Regions from separate parts of the Homo sapiens genome. Here all the other regions are linked to region 1. Evidence: fine-mapped expression QTL. A gene starts in region 1. Each other region holds a variant in brackets. All regions are shown on one strand. Distances are between the middles of the regions. Region 1 holds the start of ACACB (acetyl-CoA carboxylase beta). Region 2 overlaps ACACB (acetyl-CoA carboxylase beta). Region 3 overlaps ACACB (acetyl-CoA carboxylase beta).

Region 1 (6,825 bases):
TAAATTGTTTGCATTTTTTAAAGATAGACTTTAGCATGTTGCTAGTATGCTTGCATTATTAGATAATACATCTCTGTTCAAATTCACTTTCTGCTTCAGTTTGCTTCTCATATAAAAGTCTTCGCAAGTATGTTTGGTGGAGAAGCAAACTTTTTGGCGTATGCGTGTGGTGTTGGCTTTTCATCCTTGCCAAACCTTCAAGATTTGCAAGGAAAAACAGGTTGCAGGGAGGTGCTCTGGGTTACTTTGAAAAGACCTCACATGCTGACTTGTGCTGACTCAAGCTGAGGAAAGCTAGAACATTCCTCTGCTGGAGATGGCCTCCTTGTTTAGAGTCCTTCTGACACTGTAATTTGGGTCTGACAACAGGAAGTTCCTTTGTAGTTTAAGTCAATGGGAACCAATTTTTTTTTCTTTTTTTTGCGATAGAGTCTCACTCTGTTTCTTAAGATGGAGTACAGTGACTCAGTCATGGCTCACTGCAGCCTCAACTTCCTGGGTTCAGGTGATCCTCCTGCCTCAGCCTCCTGAGCAGCTGGGACCACTGGTATGCACCACCATACCTGGCTAAGTTTTTAATAGAAATGGGGTCTTGCTAAGTTGCCCAGGCTAGGGAACCAGTTTTTAAGTTTTTGAAATATGCTTGGAAATATAAATATTGGTGAGCGGAGCAGACCAGGAGATCAATAATTTATGTTCTCTGCTTGTTAGTTGTGTATATAGCATGTTCTTTTGTCTCTCTTAATGATGTTTGGGGTGAGGGTGTGGGAGAGGAAGGTAGGGAGCCTTCCAACAAGAAGCTAGTGCTCCTCCAGCCTAGAGAAGCTAAAACATGCAAAGCCAGACCCCATCCCTGGAAATTCTGATTTAATTGGTGGGGGAAGGCATGTGAATTCTCACAGAGGGTCCGGTTTGCAGCAGGACTGGTGATTTCTTTCCAGGTGCCTTGTTTTGTTAGACCATGTGGTCACTTAATAATTTTTTTTGGGCCAGGTACAGTGGCTCATACCTGTAATCCCAGTGCTTTAGGAGGCAAGGCAAGAAGATCGCTTTAGGCCAGGAGTTCAAGACCAACTTGGGCAACATAATGAGACCTTGTCTTTAAAAAAAAAAAATTTTTTTTTTTTTAATTAGCCAGGGGTGGTGTGTGCCTGTAGTTCTAGCTACTTGGGAAGCTGAGGCAGGAGGATCATTTGAGCCCAGGAGTTCGAGGCTGCAGTGAGCTATGATCATGCCACTGCACTCCATCCAGCCTGGGCAACAGAGCAAGATCCTATTTCTAAAACAAAACAAAACAAAACAAAAAATGTAACTTGATACCTGTGACTTTCTGAAACTAACAGCTGTTTGAAGAAATATATTTCTATTACCGTTCTTGTGTTTGATGGAAAGAGTTTATGAATAACTTTGGTTTCAAGCCTTCCAATTATATTCTGGAAAATACCTGTGTCTTAAAGAGATAGTGTCTAGGGAGAACTGAATCACTGCAGAGTTCTTCACCTGTATGTGTGGGTATGTCTAGTCTTTTTGCAAGTAATGAATTTCATTAGAAAGATATTAAGTGCTTGTCATGAGCAAGCCCCTGTGCCAGAAACTCAATATAAATCATTTCATTTTCTCACCCATATGGTGAAGTAGTTGATGAGGACACTGAAGCTCAGCCATTTGCTCAAAGTCATGGCTAATGGAGGGAGGATTCAAACCCACATCAGCTTGATTTCAAAGCCTAATAGTCCTGCCACTGTCAACACCCTGCCTAGATCATGATTATTTGGAATCACTGGGAAAGAATTTTTTTTTCATGAAGTTAGAAGCCTAAGAATTTTTTTCAATGGAATTTTATAAAAATGTCCTTGAATCACAGATGGCTCTCCCTGGAAACATAGGTTTGTTTGAGAGTCACCTCTTTTATTGTCTTAATAAATAGACTAAGAGCCATCACAAGGGCTACTGTGGCTAGAGAACATATGACTCGGGCCGGGCATTGTGCAGGCATTTGACCTGCATTCCTTCACCCCGGTTCCTGTAACATGTACCTGGTGCTGTGGGGTTACAGCTGATAATGCTGAGGTTTCCAGAGCACATGCTTCCAAGTCCAGTGGAGAAAATCCCAAGAAGTCCAATATTCAATGACTGTTCCTTATTGCAAAATAAGCCCAGAAACAAAGTAGCTGTGAACAGGCTGCACCAGCCCCAGCAGCAATTTCCATTTAAACCATTTTGCACAGATCCCGTGCTCAGCGCTCTCGCCAGTTTCTCCACTTGCTGTTTAGTAAGGCCATCATTGTTGGCAGGAAGTGGGTTCCACCTTCCCTGTTGCCTGAGCACAATGTGCTCCTATGTGGTCTCCACTTTCCTGCTGCCTAGTTGGCTGGGCTTCTCCAGCTGGGCCTTGGAGGCGACCTTTGTCCCACATGCCAGCCCTCCCCACGTTGCAGAACACTATGTAACTGCAGCGTGTGCTGAATTTCCTCTTCTGTGCTCAACCCTAGCAAGAGCCAGTCAACCCTGAATGAGAATGTGGCAATGGAGCTGTTTTTTTCTTTTATCCCCAAGTCACAAGAAATTGGAAACATTCCATTAAGTGGCGTGATTTGAGAGGGTTTCGCCAAATCTTTTCAGGGGAGAGAAGCCAGGTGACCTGATAGCGATCACCTTCCCATTCACGGTTTTCAATGGGGGCTTGTTTCTCAAATGACCAACACCTGTAGGCAGTTAATTTTCAGCATGTCACAGGAGGGCCCAGATGACTTTCTGCCTACTGCTTACGACAACATGGACTTTAGATGCCTCATGGCTTCAACAGCTAAGAATTATGAAATAAAGCGAGTTATGGGATTAAAAGGCAGATAGCAGAACTCTCCCAGGAGTAGCCAGGGCTGCACAAGTGGTTTGACGTGGGATCTTTCTCATCTTTGCCCCGGGTTGTTGCTGCTTTGAAGGTTAAGTGCTCCAGGGATATTTTTAAACAGCAGGGGCTGATTAATCTAAAAGTGACATTTGCAGTCCCCAGAGTAAGCAGCTAGCAGGCTTAGATTCAGGCCCTCAGCAAACAAGGAACCTGGAAAATGTAACCCTGAATGCACGGTGGGGAGGACATGGCAAGAGAAAAGCGGCAGGAATAAAGTGGTAAGTCAGCTCGCCCCTCCCCGGGGTCCGGACCATTCTGCCAACGTCCAGGTAAATTCGAACCCAATGTATAGTGAGAGCAGACCCTGTCTGAAGGCATGCACTTGGGGTCCCCGGGGAAAAACGACTCCCGTCATGTTTGAAGGAAGCTAATCAGAAGAGCTCGAAATGTAACGCAGATGAAAGAGAAGGGCCTTTCTTTGCTTCTATAAATGGTGGTGTGGATCCCTGGACATGCTCCCATATAAGTTCCACAACGTTTTATAAACAATTCTGTTTTTTGCCTCCAAAGCTACTGTCTTAAGGAATAGTATTCTGTTTCTGTTTCCTCAAATGGTTGTTCTTTTTTTTTTTTTTTTTTTTTTTAAAGCAGACTAAGGCTGGGCACGGTGGCTCATGCCACCCAGCACCTTGGGAGGCAGAGGCAGGTGGATCACTTGAGGTCAGGAGTTCGAGACCAGCCTGGCCAACATGGCGAAACCCCATCTGTACTAAACACATAAAAATTAGCCAGATGTGGTGATGGGCACCTGTAATCCCAGCTACTTGGGAGGCTGAGGCAGGAGAATCGCTTGAACCCAGGAGGTGGGGGTTGCAGTGAGCTAAAATTGCGCCACTGCATTCCAGCCTGACTGACAGAGCAAGACTCTGTCTCAAAAAAAAAAAAAAAGAAAAGAAAAAGAAAAAAAGGAGACTAAGAGTAAAGCGTTTGTAGTGGTCCTATATCCTATATTTCTAGGAAGACATGACTTTCTTTCAATGTTGAAAAAATGCATTCCAAAATAATATGCAAGTTAAAAAGTCACTCAGCACCGTGCAAAAGTCTCCTTGCTGTTATTCCTGTCTAACCCTCCTCCTCCAGGTAGCCACTGTGCACATTTTGGTATAAACCCCCCAGACCTTTTATTCTGTACACTCACACTGTACACAACTCTCTCCCTCATGTCTATTGTGATTACTTTTATTTTTTAATATCAATGGGCATCCATATAGGTTGGGTGACCAACCATCCCACTTTGCCCAGGACCGGGGAATTCCCGGGACATGGGACTTGCAATTTAAAAACTGAAAGGTGAAGATATTATTATTATCATTATTATTTGAGATGGAGTGCTCACTGCAAGCTCCGCCTCCTGGGTTCACGCCATTCTCCTGCCTCAGCCTCCCAAGTAGCTGGGACTACAGGCACCCACTACCACGCCCGGCTAATTTTTTTTGTATTTTTAGTAGAGACAGGGTTTCACTGTGTTAGCCAGGATGGTCTCGATCTCCTGACCTCAAGTGATCCGCCCGCCTCGGCCTCCCAGAGTGCTGGGATTACAGGCATGAGCCACCGCGCCTGGCCAAAGATATCATTTTATAAATTGCATGTTTCTGCTAATAGTGACATGGAGTTCTTTACAAGATTTCTTTTTATGACTTCTCCAAGTTTTAAGTGGAAAGACCCAGCCAATCCTAATTCATGTGATTTAGAGATGAAAATATCTCTAATCTGTAACTTTCTTTCAGAAGCTCTTAAGAGTTTTATTTGCTCCTGCTCAGGTGTTGTGTAAACTCGCTCATACTTTCAACACCTTTAGGTCTGAGACAGAAATTTGAGTATTACATTACATGAGATACCCAGTCTTCATGGGGAAATAAACATTTTAATCTTTTGAAATGGAGGTTTCCTTGAAGTCTTATCCCAGTAGAAACTTTGACCTTGTTCTTTTTTTTTTTTTTTTTTTGAGACAGAGTCTCGTCCTGTCACCCAGGCTGGAGTGCGATGGCACAATCTCAGCTCACTGCAACCCCTGCCTCCCAGGTTCAAGCAATTCCTCAGTCTCAGTCTCCCGAGTAGCTGGGATTGCAGGCAAGCACTACCACGCCCAGCTAATTTTTGTATTTTTAGTAGAGATGGGGTTTTGCCATGTTGGCCAGGCTGGTCTCGAACTCCTGACCTCAAGTGATCTGCTCACCTTGGCCTCCCAAAGTGCTGGGATTACGGGCATGAGCCACTGCACCCGGCCTGGAATACCTTGTTCTCATGCTTCCTCTGAATTTGTGATTCAGTGACTTGTTACTTCAAAGTAGAGTTCACCTGTACCCAGGGAAACCAGGAAACAGAGTTAGAAATATTGCATTTGATCGGAAAAATGTATGCACATTTCACATCCTATCCTAATAGATCTCTCTGTTTGCAGTGATAATAGTAAATTTATGACCGTAGAGTAAGGTGATTTTCTAGGAAGATAGACCGTGTTCATTTATTCCAGGAATCCAGGGATCCTTGTATCAGAGAATCCAGGCTGGGCACAGCAGAGAAACCAAGGTATTGATTATTGGGTAGTTGGCATACCCCAGGTATGCCATAATAATTATGGGATCTCACATAATTTTGAGGACAATCCTAGGAAGGAGATTTTATTTATTCCATTCCACAGGCCAGGAAACCAAGGTTCAGAGAATTTCCATGATGGGCTCAGGCCAATCAGATAACAAATGGCAAAGCCTCCACCCAAGTCTGCTGTACTCCAGAAGTCCTGCTCTCTGGGCTCATACCTTAGCCACTCTGACCCTTGCTGGGGCCCCAGAAAACAACTACACATAGAAAAGGTCTCTTCAGGCCAGACACAGTGGCTCACGCCTGTAATCCCAGCACTTTGGGAGGCTGAGGAGCTAGATCACTTGAGGTCAGGAGTTTGAGACCAACCTGGCCAACATGGTGAAACCCTTTCTCTACTAAAAATACAAAAATTAGCTGGGTGTGGTGGCTAGTGCCTGTAAACCCAGCGACTTGGGAGGCTGAGGTAGGAGAATCACTTGAACACAGGAGGTGGAGCTTGCCGTGAACCGAGATGGTGCCACCGCACTCCAGCCTGGGCAACAGAGCAAGACTCTGTCTCAAAAAAAAAAAAAAAATGATTTTGAGACAGGGCTGGGTGGCTCACGCCTATAATCCCAGCACTTTGGGAGGCTGAGGCAGGCAGATCACTTGAGGTCAGGAGTTCAAGGCCAGCCTGACCAACATGGCAAAACCCTGTCTCTACTAAAAATACAAAAATTAGCCAGTTATGGTGGTGCGCCTGTAATCCCAGCTACCTGGGAGGCTGAGGCAGGAGAATCGCTTGAAACTGGGAACCAGACGTTGCAGCAAGCTGAGATCGCGCCACTGCACTCTAGCCTGGGCGACAGAGCGAGACTCCATCTCAGAAGAAAAAAAAAAAGGATTAAAGGATTTTCCACCACTCCTGTTGAACTAATTAAGCTCCATATTTTTAAATTAAATAATGAGTGAAGGTGATATCAGAGGACAACTTGAACACACTCTCCTTTCTATTTAGAAGCAAATCAGCTGCAGACTTCAATACTAGCTATTATAGAATAATCAGTTGTTGGACATGCCCCTCCCAACTGACCTAGAAGGCTTTCTCTGCTGTGTTATAAGGAAGGCTTCGGTCTTTTATTTCCATACTCCCCACAAAGTGAGGCTTTTGGAGCTCTTCTGATATGGAGAGCTGCCCATGCAAGGTGGAAACAGGCCTCCAGGGCCAATCAGTTTGGGAAACACCAGGCTGCCTGTGGTTTACAGCAGGACTTCTCAGAGCCTTTACTATGCTAAATGCAGTGGGACTCTCCAAGATGTGACATTGGGATTTGGCCCTAGAAATGTTATTTTTTGGCAAGGGTGGGGACCATCTTTCAGGATTGGTATTC
Region 2 (6,825 bases), 120 kb after region 1:
GGCCAGCTTAGTTGTTGACTGTTTCTAGACACAATTCCGTCCCTGAAACCTAGAGTTGTAGGCATAAGTTGCAGATAAGAGCTGAGAGTGGACAGATCATTTGAATATATTATTCTTTAATTGGTCAGTCACTTGTGGACCTCTTTCATTGTTAATAAAGAGTGGTCCACCACATATTATTTCCTTGCATGGATGTACCGTGTATAATTTTTTTTTTTTTTTTACTAATCCCCTATTGATGGAAACATATATATATTATTATATATATAATTATATATAATAATATATATAATATATTATATAATATAACATATAATATACATAATATAATATATAATATGTTATATAACATTATATATACATAATATAATACATATTATATGTATTTATATAAATATATATTTATATAAATGTATATATAATTATTATATATATATATTTTTTTGGAGATGGAGTTTTGCTCTTGTTGCCCAGGCTGGAGTGCAATGGCACAATCTCAGTTCACTGCAACCTCCGCACCCCCGGGTTCAAACAATTCTCCTGCCTCAGCCTTCTGAGTAGCTAGGACTACAGGCACACCCCACCATGCCCAGCTAATTTTGTATTTTTAGTAGAGATGGGGTTTCTCCATGTTGGTCAGGCTGGTCTGAAACTGCCGACCTCAGGTGATCTGCCCACTTCGGCCTCCCAAAGTGCTGGGATTACAGGCGTGAGCCACCACGCCTGGCCCTATTGATGGATATTAAGCTAACTGCAGTTTTTTTGCTACCTGTCAGCTAGATGTTTTATTTTTATTTTGATACAGAGATTTGCTCTTGTCACCCAGGCTGGAGTGCAGTGGCGTGATCTTGGCTCACTACCACCTCTGCCTCCCGGGTTCAAGCGATTCTCCTGCGTCAGCTTCCTAAGTAGCTGGGATTATAGGCGCCCACCACCATGCCCAGCTAATTTTTGTATTTTTAGTAGAGACGGAGTTTCACCATGTTGGCCAGGCTGGTCTCGAACTCCTGACAACTGATCCACCCATCTCGGCCTCCCAAAGTGCTGGGATTATAGGCGTGAGCCACTGTGCCTGGCCAAGCCGTTTTAATAGGTTTTATTATTGTTGAGGTATGGTGAGGCCAACAGATAAGGAGACAACTGCCATCAAAAAGACAGTTTATTACTCATAGTTCCCAAGAAGAAGGGGTTTTCCCTGCCATGGGGCCACATGGGGAGGCTCTGGGGTTGGTCAGGCAGCAGAGGGACAGAGGGGAAGACATGGAAGACGTGGACGAGAGCCTTGATTGTGGTTTCCTGGAGAAGAAAAAAGTGAGGCTGAGTAAACAGGTTTAGGATTGGCTGTGAATCATCTCAGCAGACCCTGGCATATAGAAGCTGTCTCTGGTTCTCAGGAATCTGGCCCTGGGTGATTAGAGCAGGTGGTTTGTGTCCCCAGGTATGATCCAGGGTCAGCAAGGCCCCAGGTGTCAAAGTGTCAGAATGCAGAAAATAGGACACATGTCAATACACTCAACAGCTTTGCAGTCCCTTCGCCTCTGAGAGGCAGGGCTCTGCTGTTCTTGCCTGGCACACTTTTTGGAGGAGGGGAATGTTTTCCTCCTGTCTCTGCCTCTTTGGGGCTGAGTTTCCAGCCAGCTGGGAGTAGGCCTGCACCCCTGGCCTGAGCAGCTGCCCCTCCCACTCTTTGGCAGGAAGCCTCCTTCGAATACCTGCAGAACGAGGGTGAGCGGCTGCTCCTGGAGGCCATGGACGAGCTGGAGGTGGCGTTCAATAACACCAGCGTGCGCACCGACTGCAACCACATCTTCCTCAACTTCGTGCCCACTGTCATCATGGACCCCTTCAAGGTCTCGCCTTTGCAGGGGGGCTCTCACCGGGCTCTGGGTTCACCCTCTGAGCCATGCTGCTTTGGGGTATTGTCTCTTGCCACTCAAGACCTGGGTTCCAGGATGAAACCATGCGTATCTGAGCCTCAGTTGCTGCGGGAGGAGAGCAAACCTTCTGCCATTCAATTCTAGAGCTATGTTTTAGCCATGCCCTGCACGGGAATGCTTTACTTTAAGGATGACAAGCATGCTCAAAATGTCTTTCAAAACAAAATTTTGTCCTTTCCCTGGTTCCAGGCTGCGCTGGGGACTGCATGTGGGTGGGGAGAGACGTGAGACCGTGAGGTCTGTGGCTGAATGTTCCCTGTCAGGTGGCTCTTCACGAGCAGACAGACTTTTATGGTGGTGATTCTGGAATGAAAGAAGCCCCACTTGTAATCCCAGTACTTTGGGAGGCTGAGGTGGGTAGATTGCTTGAGCCCAGGAATTTGAGACAAGCCTGGGCAACATGGAGAGACCCTATCTCTACTAAAAATTTTAAAAATTAAAAAATAAAATATTAAGATTATTAATCAAATTAATATTAATATCGATATATTAATATTATTAAAATATATAAATGTATTTTATTTTATTATTTAATAATATATATTATTAAAAATAATTAATACAATAGTATTATTAAAAAGAGAAGTCCTGATACATCCGTTTGGTATCTGGGGGATTCAGGGGACCCATGTGGAGGCTCTGGCCTCACTAGTTCAGGTAGTTCCAGAAGGAAGCAGTGCAATGGCTTGAGTCAAAGGCATGTAAAGATAGTATAACATAGCAGTACTAGTTCAGTCACTTATCAGCCTCAGTTTCCTTATCTGTCAGTGAGGGATTAGAAAAGCTCGCCTCTCTTGAGTACTTACGAAGGCAAAATGAGGTAGAGTTTTAAATGCTTAGCAAGAGCCGTTGCTTGTTATTAGTTAATACTTTTTGTTGGATACACACTATGTCCCAGGCGTTTTTGCAGTCAGTATATCTCATCCTCTTATTAGTATCAGTGCTATTGCAAATGTCCTTGGGATGTCTTGGCCCTGAAACTGGAATTGCTGTGTTTTGGGGCAGATCGAGGAGTCCGTGCGCTACATGGTTATGCGCTACGGCAGCCGGCTGTGGAAACTCCGTGTGCTACAGGCTGAGGTCAAGATCAACATCCGCCAGACCACCACCGGCAGTGCCGTTCCCATCCGCCTGTTCATCACCAATGAGTCGGGCTACTACCTGGACATCAGCCTCTACAAAGAAGTGACTGACTCCAGATCTGGAAATGTAAGGCTGGCCCGCGCCGTGGGGGTCTAAGTCAAAGCAGAAGCAGGCTGCTTGGGCCATCAATTTGTAGATTAAGATGGCATTTGGAGGCGGTCTTGCCTTGCTCTCCCATGTCATTCTGGGTTGGGGTAGCCCCCTCTGAGTGTTATGTTAAATGTGTTAGCCTTTGAATCTTGGTTTTTCACTCACCTAAAAAGGAGAGTGAATCTCCAAGTTTAATCCATTCTGTGGCCATGTTGGATTTTTGATAGAGACAAGGTGTCACCATATTGGCCAGGCTGGTCTCGAATTCCTGACTTCAAGTGATCTGCCCGCCTCGACCTCCAAAGTGCTGGGATTATAGGCGTGAGCCACCACGCCTGGCCATATGGCCATATTTGGGATAAGTTGTGCACTACTGTGGTTGACTGTAATGCAGTCCTCAGATTGGTTCACTTAGGGAAATACTTTCCCAACCATGTTCTAGGACAGACTTTTGTAAAGTGAATTAAATGTTCTTTTGACTGCCATTTAAATTCCTATGTGTGTACATAAAAATATACATATATATACACGCCATTTTTTAAAGAGATATTGCCTAGACTGGGCCTGAACTCCTGGGTTCAAGCAATCTTCTGGCCTCAGCCTCCCAAGTAGCTGGGACTACAGGCACATGCCATTGTGCCTGGTCTATGCACTTTTTATTTTGGAGTAATTGAAGACTGAAGACTCTCAAGCAGTTGCAAAATTAGTACAGAAGAAAAAAAATAGTGCAGAGGATTTTCACCCAGTTTCCCCCAATGGTAATGTTGATTGAACTTCACCATTGCACATCATTAAAACAGGAAATTGACATTGGCACAGGACTGTTCGCACCAACACTGACCACGTTCGGATTTCACCAGCGTTTCCATGCATGCCTGTTGTTGGGAGTGTG[T/A]GATGCCTTGATCACTGTATTTTTGGAACTGCATTCCACAGCCCCTGTTGTCCCTTCTTGTTCTGGCCCTCCACAGTGGTGAAGAAGGGAGTTTTACGTAGCCCAGGCACTCACTTTGTCATGCCATGTGACATGCTTTGCTTCCCCCACCTGCATTTTCATTGAGGACTGGGCAGAAATAAATTGGGGGAGATGTGTGATTCTCTCTCACTCTCTGTTTTCCCTCCTTTCTGGTCCAGATCATGTTTCACTCCTTCGGCAACAAGCAAGGGCCCCAGCACGGGATGCTGATCAATACTCCCTACGTCACCAAGGATCTGCTCCAGGCCAAGCGATTCCAGGCCCAGACCCTGGGAACCACCTACATCTATGACTTCCCGGAAATGTTCAGGCAGGCAAGTCCGGCGGCTCAGACGCGGTACCCCCTGGGTCCTCCCAGCAGACTCCACCAGAACCAAAGCCCATCCTTAATTCTCCTTCTAAAGACCTAGTCTAAAGGACAAGGTCTTGCCAGGTGCGGTGGCTCACGCCTATAATCCCAGCACTTCGGGAGGCCGAGGAGGGAGGATTGCTTGAGCCCAGGAGTTGAAGAACCCCATCTCTACAAAATATACAAAAATTAACCGGGCGTGGTGGCGCATGCCTGTAGTCCCAGCTACTTGAAGGCTGAGGCAGGAAGGATCACCTGAGCCTGGGAGGTCGAGGCTGCAGTGAGCCATGATGTCACCACTGCACTCCAGGCTGGGTGACCGAGTGAGACCCCGTCTTCAAAAAAAAAGAACAAGGTCTGCATTGAAGAAAAAGAAATGAATGTGTTGAGAACGACTTCATAGTATTTTTCTCCAAATAAGACTAATTTATCCCAATGATAAAAGTCATAGGATATAGAAACTTCAGAAAATAAAGGAGGTTGGAACAAAGAAAAAATAATTCCTAGTCCCACACTCTGATGACAAATTGCTTAACATTTTGATGTGTTTCCTTCTGGTCTTTTTAATGGTCATTTATTAAGTACCTGCTACTTACCAGGCACCATTCGAAGTCTAGACAGCTGTGGGAAAGAGGAGGGGGTCACTGCCTTGAGTAATTTTTAGTCTACTCTTAAAAAATAATGTTTTGGGTTGGGCACAGTGGCTCACGCCTGTAATCCCAGCACTTTGGGAGGCTGAGGCAGGTGGATCATTTGAGGTCAGGAGTTTAAGACCAGCCTGGCCAACATGGTGAAACCCCATCTCTACTAAAAATACGAAAATTAACCAGGCGTAGTGGCAGGCACCTGTAGTCCCAGCTACTCGGGAGGCTGAGGCAGGAGAATTGCTTGAACCCGGGAGGTGGAGGCTGCAGTGAGCTGAGATGGCCCCACTGCACTCTAGCCCTGGTGACAGAGCGAGACTCTGTCTCAAAAACAAAAACAAAAACAAAAAAATAATGTTTTATTATGTTTTTCTGATGATTAAAGTATACATAGGAAACTATGGAAAGGTAAGAATAAGGAAGTAAAATTCTATTCATATGTAATTTTCCCACCATCAATGCCTGAAAGAACATTTGGGTGCATTTTCTTCAAGTATTTTTTATGCCTTTATATGTTTATGCCCTAGGGGCTTTAAAGGAGCCTGAACCACTGACATTGGTGATGTGAATGTCTCTTCATTTTCCAGGATTGCTTTGGAATGACATTATATATATATATATATATTTATTTATTTATTTATTATACTTTAAGTTCTAGGGTACATGTGCACAATGTGCAGGTTTGTTACATATGTATACATGTGCCATGTTGGTATGGGATCTAATTAAACTAAAGAGCTTCTGCACAGCAAAAGAAACTACCATTAGAGTGAACAGGCAGCCTACAGAATGGGAGAAAATTTTTGCAATCTACTCATCTGACAAAGGGCTAATATCCAGAATCTACAAAGAACGCAAACAAATTTACAAGAAAAACAACAACCCCATCAACAAGTGAATGACGTTCATGAAACCAAGGTCAAGGACCTTCCAGTGTAGGCAGGAAGCATCTGTTCCTACCTCTGCCTATGCCTCATGCATAGAGGATATGAAAGAGTAGGAAAAGCTGCTCTTTAGAGTAACTCGGGCCTCAGCTCGAATGCTGGATCTGTCCCCTTGCTTCCTGCTGTCCCTAGCCAAGTTCCTTCACCTCTCTGGGCCTCAGTTTCCTCTTCTGTAAAATAAGAATAATAACAGTACCTACCAAAAGTTGTTGGAAAAGTGTATGTATTCAGTGGGCGCTTAATAAGTGGAAACTTATGATTAAGAATGTCATTGTCTGTATCCTTTTGCCTTTGACCTCAAGAGCTATAAGGGAAGAAACATGACTGAACCAGAAGCAAATCCATCGTCTCTTTTTTAGATAAATCCATTGTCTCTTTTTTACAGGCATGAGCCACCATGCCTGGCTAATTTTTTTATTTATAGTGGAGACAGGGTTTCACTATGTTGGCCAGGCTGGTCTCAAACTCCCGGCCTCAGGTGATCTGCCTGCCTCAGCCTCCCGAAGTGTTTGGATTACAGGCATGAGCCACCACACCCAGCTGTCTGTCTGTCTGTCTGCCTCTATATCTATATCTATGTCTATATCTATCTATTTATCTATCTATCTATCGAGAGAATGGAAAACTGAACAGCAGACCAGAGCTAAATTTATCAATATGGATAAATCTCTCAAACAAAGAGGAGTAGAAAAAGTAATTTGCTGCCGGGCGTGGTGGCTCACGCCTGTAATCCCAGCACTTTGGG
Region 3 (6,825 bases), 37 kb after region 1:
ATTAGTTGGGTGGGCTTCTTCCAAAGTTCTTGCCTGTGCGCATGGTTATTCCCAAGCCCTGGCCGGGCTTACATCTTAAAGGTGTAGCAACCTGTGTCCACGGAGGAGGAAGAGGATTGAAAAGGCAGGTGAAGTGTCCCGATAAAAGGATAAAGTCCAAAACAGCAGATGGGTGCTGAAGTGTTCCTTCCCGCCACCATTTACGACCATGTTGGGATCACTGAGGTAAGAACAGTTTAGCAAGGCAGACCTTGGATCCCAGGAAGGCAAATGAGGCTCTGTGGGGTCTGGACATACAGAGGGGGCCCTGCAGGCAAAGGTAGGTGAAGGAATACCAGGAAAGGGAGCTGACACCAGGGACCTGGCATCGCCCCCACTTTCCCAGATAGCAGACTGGGTGGGCTTGCAGTGCAGCCTCCCAGCTGCTTGTTCGTCATCCCAGCCCACATCTCTTATCGGCTCCAAGCAAGGAACAGGTCAGGAAACTAAATTGTCTATGCATATTTTTATGCGCCCCTGAGTGAAATGCCAAGGATCTTCCTGTAATGTTTAATTTATTCATTTATTGACTTAGGAAGGGGCTGGGAGAAACTCTCTTTTCAAGTCTCTTTAGCTCCTAAAATGTTTACTTTTTCTTTTTCTTTTTCTTTTTTTCTTTTCTTTTCTTTTTTCTTTCTTTTTTTTTTTTTTGAGACGGAGTCTCGCTCTGTAGCTCAGGCTGGAGTGCAGTGGCACAATTTCAGCTCACTGCAACCTCTACCGCCCGGGTCCCGGTTCAAGCAATTCTCCTGCCTCAGCCTCCCGAGTAGCTGGGATTACAGGCATGCACCACCATGCCCAGCTAATTTTTGTATTTTTAATAGAGACAGGGTTTCACCATGTTGTCCAGGCTGGTCTTGAACTCCTGACCTCATGATCTGCCCTCCTTGGCCTCCCAAAGTGCTGGGATTACAGGTGTGAGCCACTGCGCCCGGCCTCCTAAAATGTTTTCTAGGAGCTTGGGGGAAAGAGGATCCCTGTCTTTGAGTTGTTCTTGTATTAAGTTAATACAAGGTACAGAGCAACTAACCATTCATACATTCCCCTCCCCCTTAAGCATCATTGCCCTATTTTAGAAAAATTATTCACTTCTGCTCTATACTTAATGTAACACAGTCCCCCCCACCCCATATATTGAAAGAGATTATTTCATTTTGCTTTTCTGCAAAAATGAAGGCAAATTGTATGTGGATAATTTTATAGTTGAGGAAGTGGAGAGACGGGATTTACTTAAGGTCATCCGTGAGGGGAAGGGTAAGTTCAAGCCCATGGATGGCACAGTCTTTCTACCACGCTGCTGGCCACATGCATGCGGATTTTCTTGTTGATTTTGTGTGTGTATTGTTCATTGACCTGGGTTTTCCCTCTGCAATACCAGTAAGTAAAATTGAGCTTCTAGTAAGTCTGAGAGGAAGGGCTTAATGCATGAGACAGCAACTACCACCATGCTTGAACTGTTTCATCAAAAAGCACAACAATGGATGTTTGTATAAAGGTGGTGTTGTGCTTGGAGGTGGATATTAGGTTGGTGCAAAAGTAATCGTGGTTTTTGCAATCCCTTTTAATGGCAGAAACTGCAATTAGTTTTGCACCGACTGAATATTATTCATTTCTTTCCGTCTTCTATTCCCTAATAATGCAATTAGAGAAAAATGCAAGGTCATGATCACTGTGATGAAATGATGAGCCCACCCATCTAAATGAAATCCCTTATTTGAGACCCTGGGTCATAGTGAGATGTGTGAGGCTGTCTTTCAGGCTGTATTAGCAGAGAAGTGAGAATATCTATACAGTGTTTAAGTAGTGTTGGGGTTTTTGCAATAGAGAATAAAAATCTAGAGCAATACAAGTATGCTGGCAAGCAGTTCTCTTCTGCATGATCCTAACTGACTTTGGTAGGGTTGGGGTATTTTGAAATATCTTCATTTCTTGATTTTCATTGCTTTCCCTATTTTGAGGTGGTTACATTTACACTGGGGATATTTGGGGGATGAATACTTGTTGGTTTTGGTTTGAATCTCTAAAAATCAGGATACAGTGGGTTACTTTTTTGGAGGAGGTGAAGACAAGGCTGTGAACACCTTCCCAGAAACTTGAAGAACTGAGAATTTTGTTTATCTGTTTTTTTTCTTAAACCTGTTGTTGAAATGTTATTTAATATATGGTCAGGGCATAGCTATCCACTGCTGTCAGGCATGGCTGCTTAAACAGGGGCCCAGGGTGTTTATGTTGTGGCCAAGTACTTGGCACCCCCGGGAAGTGTGGCCCTGCCTGTGCCTTTTCTTTCTTTCTTTCTTTTTTTTTTTTTTTTTTTTTTTTTGAGAAAGGGTCTTGCTCTATTCCCCAGGCTGGAGTGTAGCGAGATCATGGCTCACTGCAGCCTCAGCTACCTGGGCTCAGGTAATCTTCCCGCCTCAGCCTCCTGAGTAGCTGGAATTACAGGTATGCACCACCACGCTGGCTAATTTTCATATTTTTAGTAGAGATGGGGTTTCACTATGTTGGTCAGGTTGGTCTTGAACTGCTGGCCTCAAGTGATCTGCCTGCCTCGGCCTCCCAAAGTGCTGGGATTACAGGTGTGAGCCACTGCACGTGGCCTTCCTGTGAAGTGAATTTTTAATTGTATTTTAAAATTTGTTTTCATGTTTTTGTTTGTTTTGAGACAGAGTCTTGCAATGTTGCCCAGGCTGGAATGCAGTGGCCTGATCTCGGCTCACTTAAACCTCTGCCTCGTGGGTTCAAGTGATTCTCCTGCCTCAGCCTCTGGAGTAGCTGGGACTTCAGGCCACCCCGCCACCACACCCAGCTAATTTTTGTAGTTTTAGTAGAGACGAAATTTCACCATGTTGGCCAGGCTGGTCTTGAACTCCTGACCTCAAGTGATCTGCCCACCTCGGCCCCCCAAAGTGCTGGGATTACAGGCATGAGCCACCATGCCTGGCCTGTTTTCATGATTCTGATACATTATATTTTTACACATTTATAGGATACATGTAAAATTTTGTTACATGCATAGAATGCATAATGATTGTAGGGACCAAGGGAATATCTTCTGCTTTGCCCTCTGAAGTTTCGCTGAAAAATTAACTTGTAAAAAGGCAGATTAGTTGGAGAAAAGACACACAAATTTAATTAATGTGTACACTGGGAGAACCGCAGAGTGATTACCCAGAAGGGAATTTACTGGCCAGCATTTACATTATTTTTGGTTGGTTTGTTGGCTATGAAAGTAGGCTACCTTTATTATTACTGCGATGACTTCTAGGTAGTGTTTTGGTTCTTTGCATTTATTACATTACTTGAAGAAGCATTCATTCATTTATTTTTGATTTTTTGAGATGGAGTCTCACTCTGTCACTCAGGCTGGAATGCAGTACCGCCATCTGGGCTCACTTCAACCTCCGCCTCTCGGGTTTTAGTGATTCTCTCTCCTCAGTCTCTCGAGTAGCTGGGACTACAGGTGTGCACCACCATGCCCGGCTAATTTTTGTATTATTAGTAGAGACAGGGTGTCACCATGTTGGCCAGGC[C/T]GGCCTCAAACTCCTGACCTCAAGCGCCTGCCTCAGCCTCCCAAAGTGCTGGTATTACAGGCATGAGCTACCAGGCCCGGCCTCATTCGTTTATTCTAACTGGAATCGGTTTGTCTGAGTTCAAGACCCTGGGCTCTGGCACTTCAGATAACATGCATCTCTGGGCCCCAGTTTCCTTATCTGTATTATAGGGATAAAAACAATAAGATTGCCACGAGGATTAAGTGACACAGAGGAACAAAGGAGCACTTAGTAAATGTTAGTCTTACCAGAAGTTTATTTCGGATCACCGGGCTGCTGGGGTCCTCCCTGTCCTGGAGGCACTCGCTTCAGTAGCGGACCCAGGTGGTGCAAAGTGCGTGCTAGAAGCACACTGGGTGATTGCGCAGCCACCTGTCCCAGGGAGTGGAGGTGAAAAGATGAGAGAAACCAGGACTTTGGGAAATAAAAGTCGACTTGACAACAGGGACTTTTAACGGGCACAGTGGCGACCTCTGACTCACATTTTAAATTTCCCATATTTTCCACCGCTTCCCTATCGTGTGTGTATTCAAGCATATCAATTGCTGCCAATATGTAGGGGTGTCCCATATTGGGGAGCAAAGCAGAAGAGAGGCTTTAAAAATATATATCTCCGCAGCTCATTTCGGCTGCCGAAGCTCAGCGGCGGGTCGGAGGTAGGCCGGCCCGGGGGCGGGGCTCCGTCCGGAAGGCGGGGCCCTCCTGGGGCGGGGTCGGTGTGGGGGCGGGGCCTGGGTGGGGCCTAGGCGGGCGCGATGGCCCGGGACTCTGGCGCGCAGGGTGCATTTCGGGATGGAGCAAGCGCAGCGCGAAGTTGGGCGCCCGCCGGCTGCAGCAGAACCCCGCCCGCGGCGCTCTAGGACTGCATCTCGGCCTCCGGGTCGCGACCTGGCTGTCCTGCTGGGTCCCGGGCCTCGGGTCGGCTTCAGGCGGTTAAGGGGTGCATGCTCTGCACCCCTGCGGGAGCCCGGTGGGATTGGCCTGCGGGGTGGTCAACATGAGTCCTGCCAAGTGCAAGATCTGTTTCCCTGATCGCGAAGTAAAGTAAGTAAGCCTGCAATTGTAATGACCATGATCTTTTACAAACTTACGCAGTCTTCCTTCCCCTTGAAGTCAAGCTGTGTGTCCTCTTAGCACCGCCCCCTTTACCCCCACCCCCATCCAAAGAAACACGGGCTTGAGTTGGCTGCTGGGGAGATGATGCCCGCCTTGGAAACTCTAGCTGGCCTTGGCGGGAGGGGAGGAAGGAGGCTGGACGTTGGGGGTGACGTTGCTTGGAGGAGGTCGCTTCGGAGCACACAGGTGCCTAAAGATCAGCCCTTGCGCAGGGGCACGCCTTCCCCGCTTTCTCTCCTTCGCCTCCAGAAGCTGATGGTTGTGGAAGGCAGGTCTCTTTTGAAGCTGAAGCCTGGGCAAATCGACGTGAACTTGAGCAGGCTCTCATTGAGGGTCATTTTCTGAGCAGATGAGCGTAGGCATCTCAGTGCCTGAGTGCTTTGTAGCTCTACCTACTTGGTTTTGTTTCTTTCCTTTTTTGTCCTCATTTTATTGCACTTAAAAAGAATTACCAAATTGATGGTGTGTCTGTTGTTGACAATTCAGAAAATTATAGATAAGCAAAAAAGAGGAACAAAAATCACCCATAATTCCACCCCTGTGATGTTTGTTAACAGTTGTATATTCTTCAGCTTTTTTTTTTTTCCGGTGCAGATATGTTTTAATTTATAAACTTGAATCATGCAGAACGTTCTGTAACTCACTTTTTCATTCAACATTAAGTATTTTTCTACCACTGGGCTTGGCAAACTATGACCCACTGCCTGTTTTGGGATGGCCTGCAAGCAGAGAATGGTTTTTTCATGTTTAAGTGATTGAAAAAAAAATCAAAAGAAGATTGTTTTGTGACACGTGAAAATTACATGAAATTCAAATTTCAGTGTCTACGAAAAAAGTTTTATTGGACTGCAGCCTGCTCATCGATTTATGATTTATGCCTAGTTCATGGCTGCTTTTGTGCCTCACTGGAGGATTTGAGTGGTGGGACAGAGACTGACCAGATCTAAAGTACTTACTGCCTGACCCTTGACAGACAATGTTTGCCAATCCCTGCCTACAACATGCTTTTACTGGATTCATAGTGTTCCTTTAAATGGGTGCACCTTAAAATGTATGAATAATCCTCGCCAGGCAGGGTGGTGCAAGCCTGTAGTCCCAAATACTCAGGAGGCTGAGGAGGGAGGATGCTTTTGCCCAGGAGTTGGAGGCTGCAGTGTGCTATGATCGTTCCTGTGAACAGCCACTGCACTCTAGCCTGGGCAACATAGCAAGACCCCATCTCTGAAAAAAAATGTGCCCAGGTGTGGTGGCTCATGCCTGTAATCCTAGCGCTTTGGGAGGCCAAGGCAGGAGAACTGCTTGAACTCGGGAGTTCGAGACCAGCTTGGGCAACATAGTGAGACCCCCATCTCTACTTAAAAAAAAATTAGCTGAGGATGGTGATGCATGCCTGGAGTTTCAGCTACTGGAAAGACTAAGGGAAGAGGATTGCTTGAGCCTGGGAGATCGAGGCTGTAGTGAGCAATGGTTGTGCTATTGCACTCCAGCCTGGGCAACAGAGCAAGACCCTGTCTCTTAAAAAAAAAGTATAAGTAATCCCCTATAAGTAGCGGATATTCAGGCTGTTTCTCTCTGTTTTTTTTTTTTTTTTTGGGGGGGGGCTATTATCAACAGCACAGTGAGGAATACCCCTGTAGCTGAATCTCTGCCTCCATCCTTTATTTTCTTAGGATATGTTTACCTGGTCCATAAACATTCATGCACACCTCCCATGCATAAGGCCTGCAACTGGTAGCAGGAAGGGTCGCAAAAATGGTTGGAAACCGTGACCTCCGCCCTCCAGGAACTTCGGTTCCATTGTGGAAGGCAGATGTCTTCTCAGTAACTCCAATTCGAGGCTGATGGGTGCAACAGTAATAGCCACTACCACTCATGGGGTGCTTTCAGTATGCCAGGCCAAGTGCTTTGTAGGTGTGGTCTCATGCCATCTTCAAAATACCACTGTGGGGGCACTAAGTGGAGAGTGTTGTACCCATTTCACAAACCACTTTAATGGAAAAAAAGAAAAACCTCACACAAATTTGGAATTGTCCCAGCAAGTCCAGGACGTGGGGTCCCCCTATTTATAATAATATGGACATACTTTGTTGGGGGACTACATTGTTCCTCTCTTAGCTTA

What was found.
Region 2: its variant is fine-mapped to the expression of ACACB in sigmoid colon (GTEx, PIP above 0.99).
Region 3: its variant is fine-mapped to the expression of ACACB in whole blood (INTERVAL, PIP above 0.99).

Annotation. Positions count from the first base shown.
Region 1 is chr12:109,113,576-109,120,400 of GRCh38, forward strand. It overlaps ACACB (acetyl-CoA carboxylase beta), which reads left to right and starts at 3,012. Exons shown (of 53, transcript NM_001093.4): 1 at 3,012-3,129. It overlaps LOC105369974 (a long non-coding RNA gene), which reads right to left. Exons shown (of 3, transcript XR_945332.3): 3 at 5,079-5,209.
Region 2 is chr12:109,238,136-109,244,960 of GRCh38, forward strand. ACACB (acetyl-CoA carboxylase beta) reads left to right here. Exons shown (of 53, transcript NM_001093.4): 35 at 1,695-1,850; 36 at 2,943-3,146; 37 at 4,302-4,457. Among named protein-coding and RNA genes, the nearest start is that of FOXN4, 68 kb to the right of the region's middle. RefSeq lists enhancers at 1,275-1,776, 1,777-2,276. The variant T/A (reference allele first, on the strand shown) is at 4,063.
Region 3 is chr12:109,150,307-109,157,131 of GRCh38, forward strand. The region is part of intron 2 of ACACB (acetyl-CoA carboxylase beta); the gene reads left to right. Among named protein-coding and RNA genes, the nearest start is that of ACACB, 37 kb to the left of the region's middle. RefSeq lists a silencer at 4,189-4,348. The variant C/T (reference allele first, on the strand shown) is at 3,570.